Regions from separate parts of the Homo sapiens genome. Here region 2 is linked to region 1. The links come from fine-mapping of genetic effects on gene expression. Tissue or cell type: blood mononuclear cells. Region 1 holds a variant in brackets; the other region holds the start of a gene. All regions are shown on one strand. Distances are from middle to middle.

What was found. PIP is the estimated chance that this variant, and not a neighbour inherited with it, causes the effect.
Region 2: it holds the start of EIF4A3, and the variant in region 1 is fine-mapped to the expression of EIF4A3 in blood mononuclear cells (TOPMed, PIP above 0.99).

Annotation. Positions count from the first base shown.
Region 1 is chr17:80,166,702-80,174,855 of GRCh38, forward strand. CARD14 (caspase recruitment domain family member 14) reads left to right here and starts at 3,329. Exons shown (of 24, transcript NM_001366385.1): 1 at 3,329-3,355; 2 at 6,205-6,527. The variant T/C (reference allele first, on the strand shown) is at 5,019.
Region 2 is chr17:80,142,771-80,150,949 of GRCh38, forward strand. It overlaps EIF4A3 (eukaryotic translation initiation factor 4A3), which reads right to left and starts at 4,358. Exons shown (of 12, transcript NM_014740.4): 1 at 4,023-4,358; 2 at 1,402-1,474. The coding sequence starts at 4,191. RefSeq lists enhancers at 3,585-4,299, 4,300-5,012, 5,013-5,726, 5,727-6,439 and silencers at 3,937-3,986, 4,827-5,016.

The sequences.
Region 1 (8,154 bases):
TGCTGCCACTCATCCTCATCCACAGCCAGCCACGCTGCAGAGCCACCCAGCCAGAGACACCTACTCTGGTCTCCAGCTAGGATGTTGAGGACCTGTTTCGAATGTCTTGGAAGAAGTCCTGGAATCCTCCCAGCCCCCAGGTACAAGAGTGAAGACGCATACGCTCCCTGTTTATACACCCTGACCCTTTATTTACATCCACCCATGGCAGGGGAGTCAGGTAGAGGCCCCCTTCCTCGATCAACCTAAACTCCTGATCTTGGGGTTTTCTTGTGAGGGTCTGATTTTTATTCTTCTAGGGCCTCACGCCTCCATCTTCTTCTGGTGCCAACATCATGATTTCAAGGCAAAGCTTTTCCCCAACTCCCTACCTTCTATGGATGAATAAAGTGCCCAGAGGAGGCCAGACATGGTGGCTCATGCCTGTAATCCCAGCACTTTGGGAGTCCAAGGTGGGCAGATCACTTGGGATCAGGAGTTTGAGACCAGCCTGGCCACCATGGTGAAACCCCGTCTCTACTAAAAATACAAAAATTAGCTGGGCATGGTGGCACATAGCTGTAATCCCAGCTACACGGGAGGCTGAGGCAGGAGAGTCGCTTGAACCTGGGAGGTGGAGGCTGCAGTGAGCTGAGGTCAAGCCACTGCACTCCAGCCTGGGTGACAGAGTGAGACTTGTCTCAAAAAAAAAAAAAAAGTGCCCAGAGGAGCTCTTCAGCTGGCCCAAGTCTGGCACATGTCCGTTTCTTCACTGATCACTGCCACGGGGCACAGAGCCCCTGGGTGGTGCTGTCCTGGTGCCTGCTGGCCCCTGTCCCCCAGGTCCCCCTTCTGAGTTTTTCCAGGGATACCCTAACCTAACCTGGCCAGATTACTAGAGGTGCTGCTTTATTGGCTCTGGATATGTGTATGCAGCTGCAATTCTGTGTGATATAGATGACCTGCCAGTGGGGCCCTCCTGAAGATGCCATAGTGATTAAGATACGTTTTGTTTTGTTTTGTTTGAGACAGGGTCTCCTTCTGTTGCCCAGGCTGGAGTGCAGTGGTGCAACCACGGCTCACTGCAGCGTCTACCTCCTGGGCTGAAGCGATCCTCCCACCTCAGCCTCCGGAGTAGCTGGGACCACAGGCATGTTGCACCATACCCGGCTTTTTTTTAAAATTATTTTTTGTAGAGACAGGGTCTTCCTGTGTTGCCCAGGCTGGTCTCGAACTCTTGGCCTCAAGCAATCCTCCCTCCTCAGCCTCTCAATGCACTGGGGTTACAGGCATGAGCCACTGCACCTAGCCTAAGATATGGTTTTTGACCTCAGAAAACACAGGGTCCTTCAGGGTTGTGGCTTCCTTGACTGTTTCTTTTTATTTTATTTTATTTTAGGTTCCGGGATACATGTGCAGAATGTGCAGGTTTGTTACATAAGTAGACATGTGCCATGGTGGTTTGCTACACCTGTCAACCCATCACCTAGGTTTTAAGCCCCACGTGCATTAGCTATTTGTCCTGATGCTCTCCCTCCACTCCCCCTACCATAGGCCCCAGTGTGTGTTGTTCCCCTCCCTGTGTCCATGTGTTCTCATTGTTCAGCTCCCACTTATGAGTGAGAACATGCAGTGTTTGGGTTTCTGTTCCCATGTTAGTTTGCTGAGAATGATGGCTTCCAGCTTCATCCATGTCTCTGCAAAGGCCCTTCATTCCTTTCTATGGCTGCACCTTGACTATTTCTATGGCTATTTCTGTTCTTAGGGAGGCTCCTCCCATCTCCAGTGCATTCTTCTGCCCCCCTCTTTTACTGGGAATGGCGGCATTTCTTTGCGTTTTCTGTAACTAGAATTCTCTGTGTGGCTGGCACAGTGTGATGAGCTGGCAAGCTTCCCCACTGTGGGGGAGGGCTTATCATGAGGTCTGCTGGAGGAAACTAAGAGAGCTGAGCCTTAGGGGCTTAAATGAACTGCCTGAGGGGAAGCTGACACCCAGTGGGGCTGTAACCCTGGTTGGAGAGTTCATGTCTGCACCTGGCCTCGGCCTGCGTTCTCACTTGCTCTGCCCAACTGGCTGTGCCTTCAGCCGGCTCATCACCAGGAGATTTGGGTTGGAGCTACTGCTCAGCCACCATGAGCTACATGACCTTGAAGGCCGATCTTTGATTGTCCGCAGGATAATCCTGAAGGTTCTCAGGCCATGGACCTGTGAATTTCCCTTCTTTCAGTGTCTGCATCATTGGGAACCAAGCCCCTAACCAATGTTTATTCATTCGCTCAACCAATATTTGTGGAATATCACAGCCCTAGGGGTGGGGACACAGCAGGGAACAAGAAAGACAAGAATTATTGTCCTCAGTAGGTTACTGTGGAGTGGGGAGGCTGGCAGGAAGCCACGTAACTAGAATACACGTTAGGTCAAGGCAGTATTCCCACAGAGAAGATGGAACAGGGAAGGGGAGTGAAGGCCAGGATGGGAGGTCTACGGACTTAAGTAGGATGATCTGGGAAGTAGCATTTGAGTAGAGTCTGGAAGGAGGGATGGGAAAGAGTGTTCCAGGCAGTGGGAACAGCAGGTGCAAAGGCCCTGGGGCAGAAGTGTGCCTGGACTGTCAAGACTGTTGGGCTGTGTGTCTGGAGCAGGTAAAAGAGAGATAAGGTCAGCAAGGACCTGATAAGCAGAGCCTCATGGTCACGCTGAGGACTCCAGGACCTGTACACCGAAGGGAATGACAGGAGCTGACTCATGCCCTAGCAGGACTTCTCTGTCTGCTGTGTTGAGCGCTGGTGATGGGGGCGTGGGAAGAAGTTAGGAGCCATTACAGAGGTCCCGGTGGGCCATGATCAGGACACCACAATGCAGGTGGTGAGAATGGATCGGATTCTAGACATATCTCAAGGTGGAGGACCAAGACTTTCATCTAAATCTAAACAATAGTTATGAAATGTTAACTTGAGATGGATCTATTGGAATTATTCAGATACTTCCAATAATGGATCATGAGAACCAAGAAAGGCCCTAGAATTTATCCTGATCTTCGTAGGATTTTCCCAAGGGTAGAAATGATGATGAACTGGGTGACCGTTCACAAAGGAGAGAGGATTCCCAGCCCCCAAGCCTGAAGCCTTCCCCTCAATCACCCTCAATCACCATCTTCTGTGGGTCGACCAGATGCACGGACTGTTCTCAGCCATCCCTGTGGTTCTTACGGCAATGTCTAGCTGTGGGACTGCACTGGTGCTTCGATGGCTCATAGAAGCCCCATATAAGGCACTGCTCCTGTGGGATGTGCCTGTCAAACCTGCTTGTCCACTGCCGTTCAGTTCAGCCAGAGATTGGGCCACATTCAGTCCTCGCTTCCCTGGGAGGGGGAAGGTAAGTGCGCGCAGTCCATCCGGCGAAGAGCAGGTCAGCCTACGGAGGGCTCAGCCTACGGAGGGGCTCAGCCGACACAGGTCTGATGGGGCCCGAGAGTGGTCCCAGGGGAGTGGGAGGGGCCGGCATCTTCCTCATCAGGAGTGGAGGAGCTGCCTTGTATGTGGACTAGAGAACAGAAAACGGCTTGTCTGTGTTGCTGGGTCAATCACTGGAACATTCTCTGAATGCTGAGTTCTGCCTTAAAACAGCATGGGTCATGCTAGATGAAAGGGATCTCTGTTTTATACTCTCATCTCTTCGCTATTGCCGTGGGATGAAAGACAGCAGAAGGAAGGTGTCTAAGTTCAGAACAAAGTGAGCAAGACCAGCTGGCTGCTGTTGGTAGCAGAGGCACAGCCAGCCTGTCATGGCACTGGGGGGCCGAGGTGAGCTGTGCCCCCTCCTCCTGGGCTTGTGACCCTCTGCCCCCCATGGGGTATGTACATGTGTGTGTGTGCGTGTGCGTGTGTGTATGTGTACATGCCTTCTTCCCTACTTCACTGGCAAGGGAAGAGACTGACACTTGGGTTAGGAGAAGGATGTTGACCTGGGAGGGGTCAAATAAGGAGAACCCACATCTTAGATGCTCAGGATTTTATGATCTTAGGCTCTTCTAGAATTGCTGTACAGTTAGATTCAGAGTTTGGAATTAGAGATCTCTGGGCCCTCCCCTCCCCTCCCGTCCCCTCCCCTCCCGTCCCCTCCCCTCCTCTCCCCTCCCCTCCTCTCCCCTCTCCTCCCCTCCCCTCTTCTCTCCTTTTTCAGAAGTCTCCCTCTGTCGCCCAGGCTAGAGTTGCAGTGGCACAATCTCGGCTCACTGCAATTTCTGCCTCCTGGGTTCAGGTGATTCTCCTGCCTCAGTCTCCCAAGTAGCTGGGACTATAGGTGCACGCCACCACACCTGGTTAATTTTTTTATTTTTAGTAGAGACAGGGTTTTGTCACGTTGGCTAGGCTGGTCTCAAACTCCTGACTTCAGGTAATCCGCCCATCTTGGTCTCCCAAAGTGCTGGGATTACGGGCGTGAGCCACGGCTCCTGGCGCCTTCCCATTCACCTTCCCCTTCCCCTCCCCTTCCTCCCTCCCTCCCTCCCTCCCTCCCTCCCTCCCTTCCTTCCTTCCTTCCTTCCTTCCTTCCTTCCTTCCTTCTCTCTCTCCTTCCCTTCCTTCCTCTCTCTTTCTTTTCTTCTTTTCTTTCTTTCTTTCTCTCTCTCTCTCTTTCTTTCTTTTCCTTTTTTTGAGCCAGGGTCTTGCTCTGTCACCCAGGCTGGAGGGCAGTGGCACAATCATAGCTCACTGCAGCCTTGAACTCTTGAGCTCAAGCAATCCTCCTGCCTTGGCCTCCAAAGTGCTGGGATTACAGGCCTGAGCCACTGTGCCCAGCCCTAAGGTTTTTTGTTTTGTTTTGTTTTGTTTTACTGTTAGGACTAACCCTTATTTACACTGGGACAAGTTACAAAGAAACTCCTGCAATTGTTAACTGCCATTGGAGACTACTGTAAGTTGCTTCATGGCAACTGCAGAAGGGACTAGTGACTTCTATTTAGCTCCACCCACTGATGCTTGAAGTTCAGTGTGGCTCTGGGGGCTCCAGAAGCCTGAGGGGCAGCTGGCTGGGGCAG[T/C]TGGCTGGGGTCTGGAGAGTTCTGCAGAGCCCCTGTCTTCAGCTGCTGGTGAGGCAGCTTTGGCTTGAGCTGCCCTGGCTTTCTGAGTTCAGTCTGATGGGAGGGCACAGTCAGCACCCTCAGACCCTCCTCAGGAGTCTTGTGAGGCTCGGGCAAGTCAGGGGCAGAGGGACAATCCAACTAGAGGACCCTCCCAGACCCGGTCGTTGCCACCTGGACCCAGCCCCAGGAAGGCACCCGAGAAACCTGTAGTCCTCGGCTGACCACCAGTCCTGGTCCTCAGGATATCCGCAGAGACCTGGCTGTCCAGAACTCCCAGGGTTTCAGCTGCAAGCTGGAGATGTGGCCCCTTGGCAACTCGATATAGTAAGATACTGGAGAGCGTGCCAGAGTGTCATTTGCTAGAAACAAACATTATACTGCGGTAAGCCCTAGTTTTTCAGTCATTGGCTCTTTGGCACCAACTTAATCACAAGGCCATTGGCCCCAAAGAAAGGCCTTGTAGGCGACTGTTTAGGGACACCTGTATTTTCCATCTGCCTTGGAACCTCTAGGCTCAGGCCGAATGCCTATTGAAGTAGATGTTTCGTAAGAGATTTGGGGGCAAATACTGGGATTTTATAAAGATGCTGCACTCTCCTTCACTAAGTAGAAAGCTGAGAAATCCTGCCCTGAGGGGAAGAAACAGTTGTCTTCCTGACTGATGCATCCTAGACCAGCCAAGACTTCCTCCCGCTTTCCTTCTTCTAGAACTTTCCCCACTTCAGCCAGTATCTGTCATCCCCTGGGCTCCCACCCTCTCCATGTGCCGCTTTCATCGGGGCTGAGGGGAGCAGGAGAGGAGACGTTTCTGCTGGTGTCCCCGCTGTAGCTGGAGGAGCTCGGCGTCGGCGTGCCTTCGCCTCCCCTTGCCATGATGCCCCCTAAACCGAGTCTGTATTGAGAGAGAAAGGTGGCACCGTTGATCATTACTCCAGGACAAGAGTCATAAAAGGACTGTCCCAGACAACCTAGGACCCCAGTGTTCTGTGGCGAACACTTCTAGGATGAGGCCCATCTCCTTCTCTGTTTCATCAATTGGATTAATTTTATTGTTTTCTAAAATAATGACTATGGTTTTTATTGAACCCATACTTGCTTATTCTAAACATTCTTTTTTTTTTTTTTTTTTTTTTTTTTGAGGTAGAGTTTCACTCTGGCTCCTAGGCTGGAATGCAGTGGCACCATCTCAGCTCTCTGCAACCTCCACTTCCCAGGTTCAAGCGATTCTCCTGCCTCACCCTCCTGAGTAGCTGGGACTACAGGCGAGCACCACCACAGCCGGCTAATTTTTCTATTTCTAGTAGAAATGGGGTTTCACCATGTTGGCAGGCTGGTCTCGAACTCTGACCTCAAGTGATCTGCCTGCCTCAGCCTCTGAAAGTGCTGGATTGCAGGCGTGAGCCACCGCACCAGGCCTAAACAGATTTCTTTACAATCTACCACCATGAACAGCAAGCATTAGCATTGGTGAGGAGTGTTCCAGAATCCCTCTGCTCTCTGCCTCTCCATTTCTCTCCCCCTCTCTTTCTCTCTCATGCACACACACACACACACACACACACACGCGCGCGCGCGCGCGCGGAATGACAGGACAGACTGATCGGCAGATTGGATGAATGGATGGATGGGCACATAGATTGAGGGACTCCCAGAGATAAACTAACACCATTTTATAAAAATGGTATCATATTCTACATGATTGAAATGTAAACTTTTAATTTTACTTAAATTTTAGTTCAGCTCAGATGTTGCTGGCAAAAGTTTTTTTTTATTATTTTTATTTTTTATGTACTGCTCCTTGAGGAGCTGGGCTAACTCATAGGCAGTGCATCCAGATTCGGCATTTTTTTTTTTTTAGATGGAGTCTCGCACTGTCACCCTGGCTGGAGTGCAATGGCACAATCTCGGCTCACTGCAACCTCTGCCTCCCAGGTTCAAGTGATTCTCCTGCCTCAGCTTCCCAAGTAGCTGGGATTACAGGCACACACCACCACACCTGCCTAATTTTTTGTATTTTAGTACAGATGGGGTTTCACTATGTTGGCCAGACTGGTCTCGAACTCCTGACCTTATGATCTGCCCACCTCGGCCTCCCAAAGTGCTGGGATTACAGGCGTGAACCATCGCGCCCAGCCAAAAAATATTTTTTAATTGTTAAAAATAATAATGGAATGCCAAATGTAGTAGAACAGTTTCACAATGACAAGAACTATTAGTTCCTAAAAAATCCCCAAGATTCAGATAAGAGATTACAAAAACCTTGATAAATTAGTGACATTATGTAAAATCAACAGTGCTGGGTTTGGTGGCTCAGACCTGTAATCATTGCACTTAGGGAGGCAGAGGCGGGAGGAGTGCTTGAGCCCAGGAGTTTGAGAGCCTGGCCAACATAGCAAGACCCCATTCTCCACAAAACGGAAAATACAATAAAATAAAATCAGCGTTTTGTTTTATTTTATTAATTTATTTGAGATGGAGTCTCGGTCTGTCTCCCTGGCTGGAGTGCAGTGGCGTAATCTCAGCTCACTGCAGCCTCTGCCTCCCGGGTTTAAGCGATTCTCCTGCCTCAGCCTCCCAAGTAGTTGGGATTACAGGCATGTACCACCACACCCAGCTAATATTTGTATTTTTAGTAGAGACAGGGTTTTGCCATGTTGGCCAGACTGGTCTGGAACTCCTGACCTCAGGCGACCTGCCCGTCTCTGCCTCCCAAAGTGCTGGGATTACAGGCGTGAGCCACGTCGCCTGGACTTCCTTTATTTTAGATAGCACAGGGTCATGGAAGATAAAGTGATGCCTTCCTTCCCCTACCCCCTACCCCGATTTCTACTGCTTGCATTATTTCTTAGGGTAAAGAATCTTCTTATTTGGCTGGAAGACTCTATTCCCACCGTAGTTTAGTCCTGGATGTGTGATTAAAGAAATCCAGTGGTTGCCCTGCGCTGAGAAGGACAGCCGGGCCTGGGTTCTCTCCTGGCTCAGTACAGCCCCCTCCCCACTCCTGCTGAGGACTCCCAGGGAAGCTGGAGGCAGCTCTGGGGCGTTTTCTCTGACTTCCCTAGACTTCTCTTCAGCTGCCCAAACAGTAGAGGGA
Region 2 (8,179 bases), 24 kb before region 1:
CACAGTGGCTCACGCCTGTAATCCCAAGGCTTTGGGAAGCCAAGGCAGACAGATTGCCAGGAGTTTGAGAGCAGCCTGGGCAACACAACAAAACCCTGTCTCTACAGAAAATACAAAAATTAATTGGGCATGGTGATGTGTGCCTGTAGTCCCAGCTACTTGGGAGGGTGAGGTGGGAGGATCGCTTGAGGCTGCTATGAGCTGTAATCACACGACTGCACTCCAGTCTGGGAGACAGAGTAAGACCCTGTCTCGAAAAATGTAAAAAATTTAAATTTCAAATTTTTTTTTAAAAAGCATTATGGTATTATCCCAGAAAAGCTCCTGCCCTATTCCCTTATGGGGGAAAGAATGCTGACCTCATGGAATTTTCCATAAAAACCCAAGAGGACTGGGTTCGAAGAGCTTCTAGATGGCTGAACACAGACAGTGGAACACAAGGAGGTTCCGGGAGGTGACCACCCGCCCCTTGGAGGCTGCACCCCTCCCCCCATATCTGTATCCTCTGCAGTACCCTTTATAATAAACCACTAAATGTGTTTCCCTGAGTTCTTTGAGCTGCTGTTCCAGCAAATTAATCCAACCTAAAGAGGGGATCCTGGGAACCCAACTTGAAGCTGCTTGGTCAGAAGTTCTAGAGATCCGAACTTATAACTGGTGTCTGAAAAGAGGGTAGTCATGGGGACTGAGCCGTCAACCTGCAGGATATGGCCTATCTCCAGGCAGGTGGTGTGAGTTGAACTGGAGGACACCCAGCTGGAAAAGCCCCACACCTCTGCTCACAGAAGTCTTCTTCTGTGCTGATGACTGTTGTGGTGGTGTGAGAGCAGAGGAAAAGCACAGTCTGTTTTTCCGAAATTGTGTTATATACAATTCCACATGCCAGCAAACCACTAAGCAAAGCTGGCTAAGAAAATGAAAGCCTTGGCCGGGCGCAGTAACTCATGCCTGAAATCCCAGCACTTTAGGAGGCCAAGGAGGGTGGATCACCTGAGGTCAGGAGTTTGAGACCAGCCTGACCAACATGGTGAAACCCCCGTCTCTACTAAAAATATGAAAATTAGTCGGGCATGGTGGTGCATGCCTGTAATCCCAGCTACTTGGGAGGGTGAGGCAGGAGAATAGCTTGAAACTGAGAGGCAAAGGTTGCAGTGAGCCGAGATGGCACCACTGCACTCCAGCCTGGGCAACAGAGCGAGACTCCATCTCAAAAAGAAAATGAAAGCTTTCCACAGTAGAGAACACAAATTTAAAAAAGTATTAAACCCTGTGGCTAAAGTCAGGGAAAGTGTTGGAACTGAGCGTGTACAAGCTGAGGGAAACAGTCATCCCAGAGCATCTAACTGCACTGCGCTGCCCAAATTTACATCCAGCCCTGCGCCGCACCCCAGGACAACTTACTGTGCGATGACATCTCTCCCTTTGATGATCTGCTTGATTGCTCGTTGCTGGATTGCTGATGGTTTTTCAAAACCTGCAAATAAAAACAAAAAATTAGCCCTCACCACAATGACAGCATAGAAACCCTGTACTGTGAGCTCCTCAGGGGCAGACATGGTTTGTTTTTTGAACCTGTCCTCCAGCCTAACCCAGTGTTCAACATAGCAAGCTCTCAAAACCCAGGGGCTCAATGAATTGGGCTGAGTGATTTCTACACTAACGTGGGATATTATTTGTAAAGACCAATCTCTATTTTTAAAAAACCACCAAATTGTAGAATATAGACAACAGTTTTGTTTAAAAAAAAAAAAAAATCTGGGTGTGCAGCATCTGGAAGTGTAAGTGCCAAAATGTTCCTGGCAGTTACTGCAGTAGAGGGGTGGAAAGAAACTTACTTTTTACTCTAATTACTCCCTTAGGTTTGACTGGATTACAAACAACCTATACTACTTTTTAAATTAAAAAAAAAAACAACAAAAAAACAGGAAAGTCACTCTAGCCATTGTTCTCTCCTACTAGCTAGCATTAAGTCTGTGTGTTGCTGACAGGTCTACAACTCTGTTTAACCTGCGTGGGTCACGCTGCAGGGTGTCCTATGTTGTTCTGTCTGGATGCAGCTCACTAACTACAACACCATCACACCATCTCTCTTGCAAAGCAACTACTACACCAAAGGGTGAGGCTATTTTGAAGAAGAACCACGTGTTTTTCAAGTAAATAAAATTTTATGTACAAAAACTCTATTTCAATTATTTTTTGGTAGTCTCTTAAATGTAGCTCTGCTCAGTTCTGGGGCATAGCGAAAAATAAGAAACAAAAGAAAATGTAGCACAATTTCCCATCTTAACACAAATGCAAATATAGCAGATGATTTAAACTCTTCATGAAGAGCAAGCACATAGATGGGAAACTAACAACAGTGTCTTAGGGCAGGGACTGCCTGAGTGCCAGGAAACCAGGTGGGGCTGTCAGCCTCACTGTGAGGCTGCCTGAGATGCTTTTTCACCACGCATCCTCAGCAACTTCGCTTCACTTTGTCCAAACTGTTGTGGCATCAAGAACTACAGGATACGGCCAGGTGGGGTGGCTCACACCTGTAATGCCATCACTTTGGGAGGCTGAGGCTGGTGGATCACTGAGGTCAGGAGTTCAAGACCAGCCTGGGCAACATGGCAAAATCCCCTCCCTACTAAAAATACAAAAATTAGTAGGACGTGGTGGCCCACACCTATAATCCCAGCTACTCGGGAGGCTGAGGCAAAGGAATCGCTTGAGCCCCAGAAGTGGAAGTTGCAATAAGCTGAGATCATGCCACTACACTCCAGCCTTGGTGACAAGAGCAGGACTGTCAGAAGGAAAAGGAAGAAAGAAAAGGAAGAGAACTACAGGATAAAAAATGTCCCTGTCCCAAGCATTAAACACAGGCCATTTATCCCAGATGCTGGTCATTCCCATCTATGTGCCCAACCCAACCTCTTCTCCAGGCTCTCCCTCAACTTCCTCACATCTTTCAAACATACCAAGAGACAGCTCCTGATTCTGACTCTCTGGAGTGCTGCCTACCTAGCCAAATGTTTGCAGCATCAACCACCGGTTACTCAAAACACTCCAACTCTCCTCCTTCTGTCACTCACGTTCAATCCATCAGCCAATGCTGTCAGCTCCCTGGTACTCCATCTCCAAGGCAGCACAATCCTCTCTTCCCTGAACTGCAGCAAAAGCTCCCAACTCTCTTGTTTCCTCTCCTGCCTTGCCTCGCCTCACCTCAAATCTACAGACACCCAGAAGAATCTTTAAAACTGTAAATGTGATCGTGTCACATAGCTACTTAAAACCTTCCACTGGCTTCCCACTAGATTTCTAAATGAAATTCAAATTATTCGTCACCCTACACGTCTTTGCTAGATCTGCCCCGACTAGCTCTCCAAAATCCCACCACAGGGGACTTCTTTCAGTTCCTGGAATGCAGCTGGCTAAGGGCTGCAAGGCCCTGGCACCAGCTGTTCCTTCTGCCCCAACTGCTCTTCCCTCTTCTCATAACAGTCTCCTTCATCCAGAACTCTGCTCAAATGGCACCCCCTCCTGCGAACCCCCTTACCTCTCTGCTTTACTAATTCTCTCCTCCTTCCCAGTCCCACTCTATTCAATTACCCCGCTTCAGGTTCTTCAGGTTGCCTGGGCAACCTGACAGTATGCTTTCCCCCCAAACGAAATTCAAAACCCGTAAAGGCGCAAACCCTTCCGGTTTACCGCCAAAACCCCAGTACCTAGAAAAGCTAATAGGTAGAAATCAGTTATCTGCTGAATGAAGGACGCTGAGGTGCCTCGAAGCGGCTGCAGCCCCCGACAGACCCAGCGCCGAGCTCTGCACGGGGGACACACACCGAAAGCGCCGACACAGCCAGGCGTGAGGGCGAGGACGGGGGTGGGGGTGGGGGTCGGACGTCACTGGCCCCCGAGCCTCGACCCTGACCACGACCTCCGGAGCGCAGGGCCGGCCCGGGAGTCACCAGTCTGGCCCTCAGCCCCCGGCTCGCCCCCGACTCGCCCCCGGCTGGCCCCCGCGGCCCGCGCCCGCTCACCGTAAGCGTAGATGCCCCGCAGCAGGTCCTCCCGCAGGCCCATGGTGTCGAACGTGGGGGTCACATCCACCTCCTCGCTGGTCTCGAATTCCACTTTAGTCATGTCTTCCTCTTTGAGCAGCCGCTTTCGCGCCGAGCCCGAGGTCGCCATCGTGGCCGTGGTCGCCATGATTCAGAGTCCGCGGAAGAGCACAGCGCGCGCCGCTGCCGACCTCGCTGCCGCTGCCGACCTCGCTGTGCCGCTGCCGACCTCGCTGCCGCTGCCGACCTCGCTGTGCCGCTGCCGACCTCGCTGTGCCGCTGCCGACCTCGCTGTGCCGCTGCCGACCTCGCTGTGCCGCTGCCGAGAACAGACGCCTTAAGTATGCGAAAGCGAGAGACGTGCGTGCGTACGTGCGTACGTGCGTACGCGCGACGCGGCCACGCCTCTGGGGGACGGGGCACTCTTCGTCACGTGAAAGGGAACTGGGCGTTTGCCGCAGGGAAAAGTAAGGTGTTTCTGCTCTCGCGCCATATGCAGTTCCCGCGGGATCTCGTTGAGGGCGGGGCACCCAGTTCCTTACGAAAGGGATGGAGGGGGTGGTACTTCTAAAGTTGGCGGTGTTTCGTACCGGCCGCGGGATTTCGCGGACTGGGGCGCTGAGGTTCTTTGAGCGGCGTGTGGACCTGAATTCCCTGGAAACAGGCTGGGGCCGCGAGGGGCCTCCGCTCCGGGCGGGGTCCCCAGATAGCCCCGCCTCGAATAAAAATGACGAGCACGGGTCCTCTCTCGGGCCCGCAGTGGGTGGACTGCGTCGCAGACCCGTAGTGGAGGCGCCCAGCTCGCCGGGGAGATTCGAGTGGAAACCCTCACGGCCGCCGGTGGTGGGCCCCGGCGCGGCGCTGGGCTCCGGCGGGTCTGCGCTGGGGAGGGCCAGGGCCCCTGAAGCCGGCGTCCCTCTTAGGGGACGCGCCTGGGTGTGTCTTCACCGTTTGCCTGGTGAGTTGGAGACAGGGTCTCGCTCCGTCGCCCAGGCTGGAGTGCAGTGGTAGGATCAGGGTTCATTGTAGCCTCCGCCTCAGCCTCTGGAGTAGCTGGGACCTCAGGCGCGCGCCACCACGCCCGGCTAATTTTTTAAATTTTTTTGTAGAGACGGGGTTGGGGGAGGCGGGGGTTAGGGTTGTCCTGGCTGGTCTTGAACTGCGGGGCCTCAGGTGATCCGCCTGCCTTGGCCTCCCAAAGTGCTGGGATTACAGGCATGAGCCACTGTGCCCGGCAAGCAGCTGTTATAAATAAAATACATGCTGAGCCTGCAATTTGCTCTTAATGAAGGCCACTTGTCAGTAGACGGTGCTGCTAATGCGTGTCCTGCAGCAAAGATAACCCAGACGGGATCATTTTTTAATTGCCCAGCAGAACTTTAACCAGTTGTGCATCTTAACCTGCTTTTTGTTTGTTCGTTTGTTTGTTTTGAGACAGTCTGGCCCTGTCGCCCAGGCTGGAGTGCCATGGCGCGATCTCGGTTCACTGCAGCCTCCACCTCCCGAGCACAGGCGATCCTCCCGCCTCAGCCTCCAGAGCACCTGGGACCACAGGTGTCCACGCGCAGCCACTAACCGCTTTCTTATCTGACACTTTAAGTGCTTCTTCGTACCCAGCTCCTCTAACGCCTTTTGAAGCAGCTCCATCATCTTTGAAGGGCAGTTCATGCTGTTGAGAATCATGTTTTTAACTTTGGGAAAATTGTATTTCCACGAGCGCCAGCTCTGTCCTTTTTTTTTTTTTTTTTTTTTTTTTTTTTTGACGGAGTCTTGCTCGGTTCGCCCAGGCTGGAGTGCAGTGTCGCGATCTCAGCTCACTGCAAGTTCTGTCGCCCAGGTTCACGCCATTCTCCTGCCTCAGCCTCCCAAATAGCTGGGACTACAGACACGCGCCACCACGCCCAGCTAATTTTCTGTATTTTTAGTATAGACCGGGTTTCACCATGTTGGCCAGGATGGTCTTGATCTCTTGACCTCATGATCCGCCCACCTCGGCTTCCCAAAGTGCTAGGATTACAGGCGTGAGCCACCGCGCCCCGCTATTTTGTGTGTGTGTGTGTGTGTGTGTGTGTGTGTGTGTGACAGAGTCTCGCTCTGTTCCCCAGGCTGGAGTGCAGTGGCGCAATCTTGGCTCACTGCAACCTCTGCCTCCCGGTTCAAGCGACTCCCCTTCCTCACCCTCCTGAGTAGCTAGGATTACAGGCATGCACCACCACGCCCGGCTAATTTTTGTATTTTTAGTAGAGATGGGGTTTCCCCGTGTTGGTCAGGCTGGTCTTGAACTCCTGACCTCATGATCTGCCCGCTTCAGCCTCCTAAAATGCTGGGATTACAGGCATGAGCCCGGTCCTGTCCTTTCTTATGGTCACAAATCTGGCTTGCATCGCTGGGCACATCTTTAATCCACAGCTTCTTTCTAGGAGTGCTTGAAAAGCTCTCCTTTTATGAAGGTTAATTTTAGTTAAAACCAGAGCATCCTGGCCAGGCCTGGTGGCTCACGCCTGTAATCCCAGCACTTTGGGAGGCCGAGGCAGACGGATCATGAGTGTAGGAGTTCGAGAACAGCCTGGCCAAAATGGTGAAACCCCATCTCTACTAAAAAAAAAATACAAAAATTAGCTGGCCGTGGTGACGGGTGTCTGTAGTCCCAGCTACTCTGGAGGCTGAGGCAGGAGAATCTCCTGAACCCCGGAGGTGGAGGTTGCAGTGAACCGAGATTGCGCCACTGCACTCCAGCCTGGGCGACAGAGACTCCATCTCAAAAATAAACAGAAAACCAGAGCATCCTTTTATCAAGAAGTCGGTGGATTGCAGTATTTCAAGGGTGAACAAGTAAATGCAGCCTTCTCCAAGAGTGAATCTCATTCTGGCACCAGAATTTATCCATGACAGATAATTGACCTTCTGATAAACATTCCTTGTAAGGATGCTGGTGTTACCCAAAATATTAAATATTTATAAAGCTGAATAAAATGTAAGTTCTGATACCTTCCTCACTCTACAAAGGATCATTTCGTGCCTCACACTGTTTGCCAGGCCGTGCTGTAGCGCTTTGTCGTAAAATACACACAGATTTCAATGACTTAACGTAGGAGAAGAATGTAAAATACCTTGTTGACTAAAGAAAAACAGTTAAGCTTTTAAAGAATTAAAGTTAGTTTTATTCAGAAGCCTTACTGAGGACCGTACATCCTGGCCCCAGCCCAGGAGCTCAAGCGATCCTCCTACCTCAGCCTCTCAAAGTGCTGGAATCACAGGTGTGAGCTACCAGGCCTCTCACCTTGTTCAAAGTTAAAATCTAATCCACAAACTGCTTAGATTTGTTTTCCTTCATATTTTTATGACTAGATGATCTAACATTTTACACCATTTTTCTGGAAATGTTGTTTATGCCAGGTGTCTGAACACACATCTTAAAGGGCTCTAACTTTTCTGGGGAGCAGTAGCTTTTTAGCCCAGAGTCTATGACAATGTGACAATGATGAGAGCTGCTGAGGTTTGCTGCAGTCTCTGGGTGAACGATGCTTTCTAGGGAAACAATGGGGCATAAAACAGACATGGGCTCTCCTGCCTTGAGATTAATCGCGTGAGATGGACCCCTCCCCAACACACAAACATTGTGGGACATGAGGTGCTGGAGACGGGGTTGCTCACCCAGAGCTTAATGGGTCTGTCCACCTTTGTGACCAAGAGGCCTCTTTTCTTAGAGGCTGAGGGGCCCTGGGATGATGAGGGTAAATCCACTTTTTAGAGCAGGAATCTCCAAACCCCAGGCCACGGACCAGTATCAGCACCTGTCTGTGGCCTGTTAGGAACCAGGCGGTGCAGCAGGAGGCAAGCAAGGGAGCTAAACTGAGCTCTGCCTGCTGTCAGCAGCAGCACTGGACTCAGAGGAGTGTGAACCCTGTTGTGAACTGCACATGCGAGGGATCTAGGTTGTGCACTCCTCATGAGAATCTAATGCCTGATGATGGGAGGTGGAATAGTTTCATCCCGAAACCACTACCCCATCCATCTCTGGAAGAATTTTTTTCCACCACCTGTGGAAAAGTTGTTGACGTGGCTAGACTTTGTGTCTTCACCCACATCTCATCTTGAATTGTAATCCCATAATCCCTATAATCCCCACGTGTCGA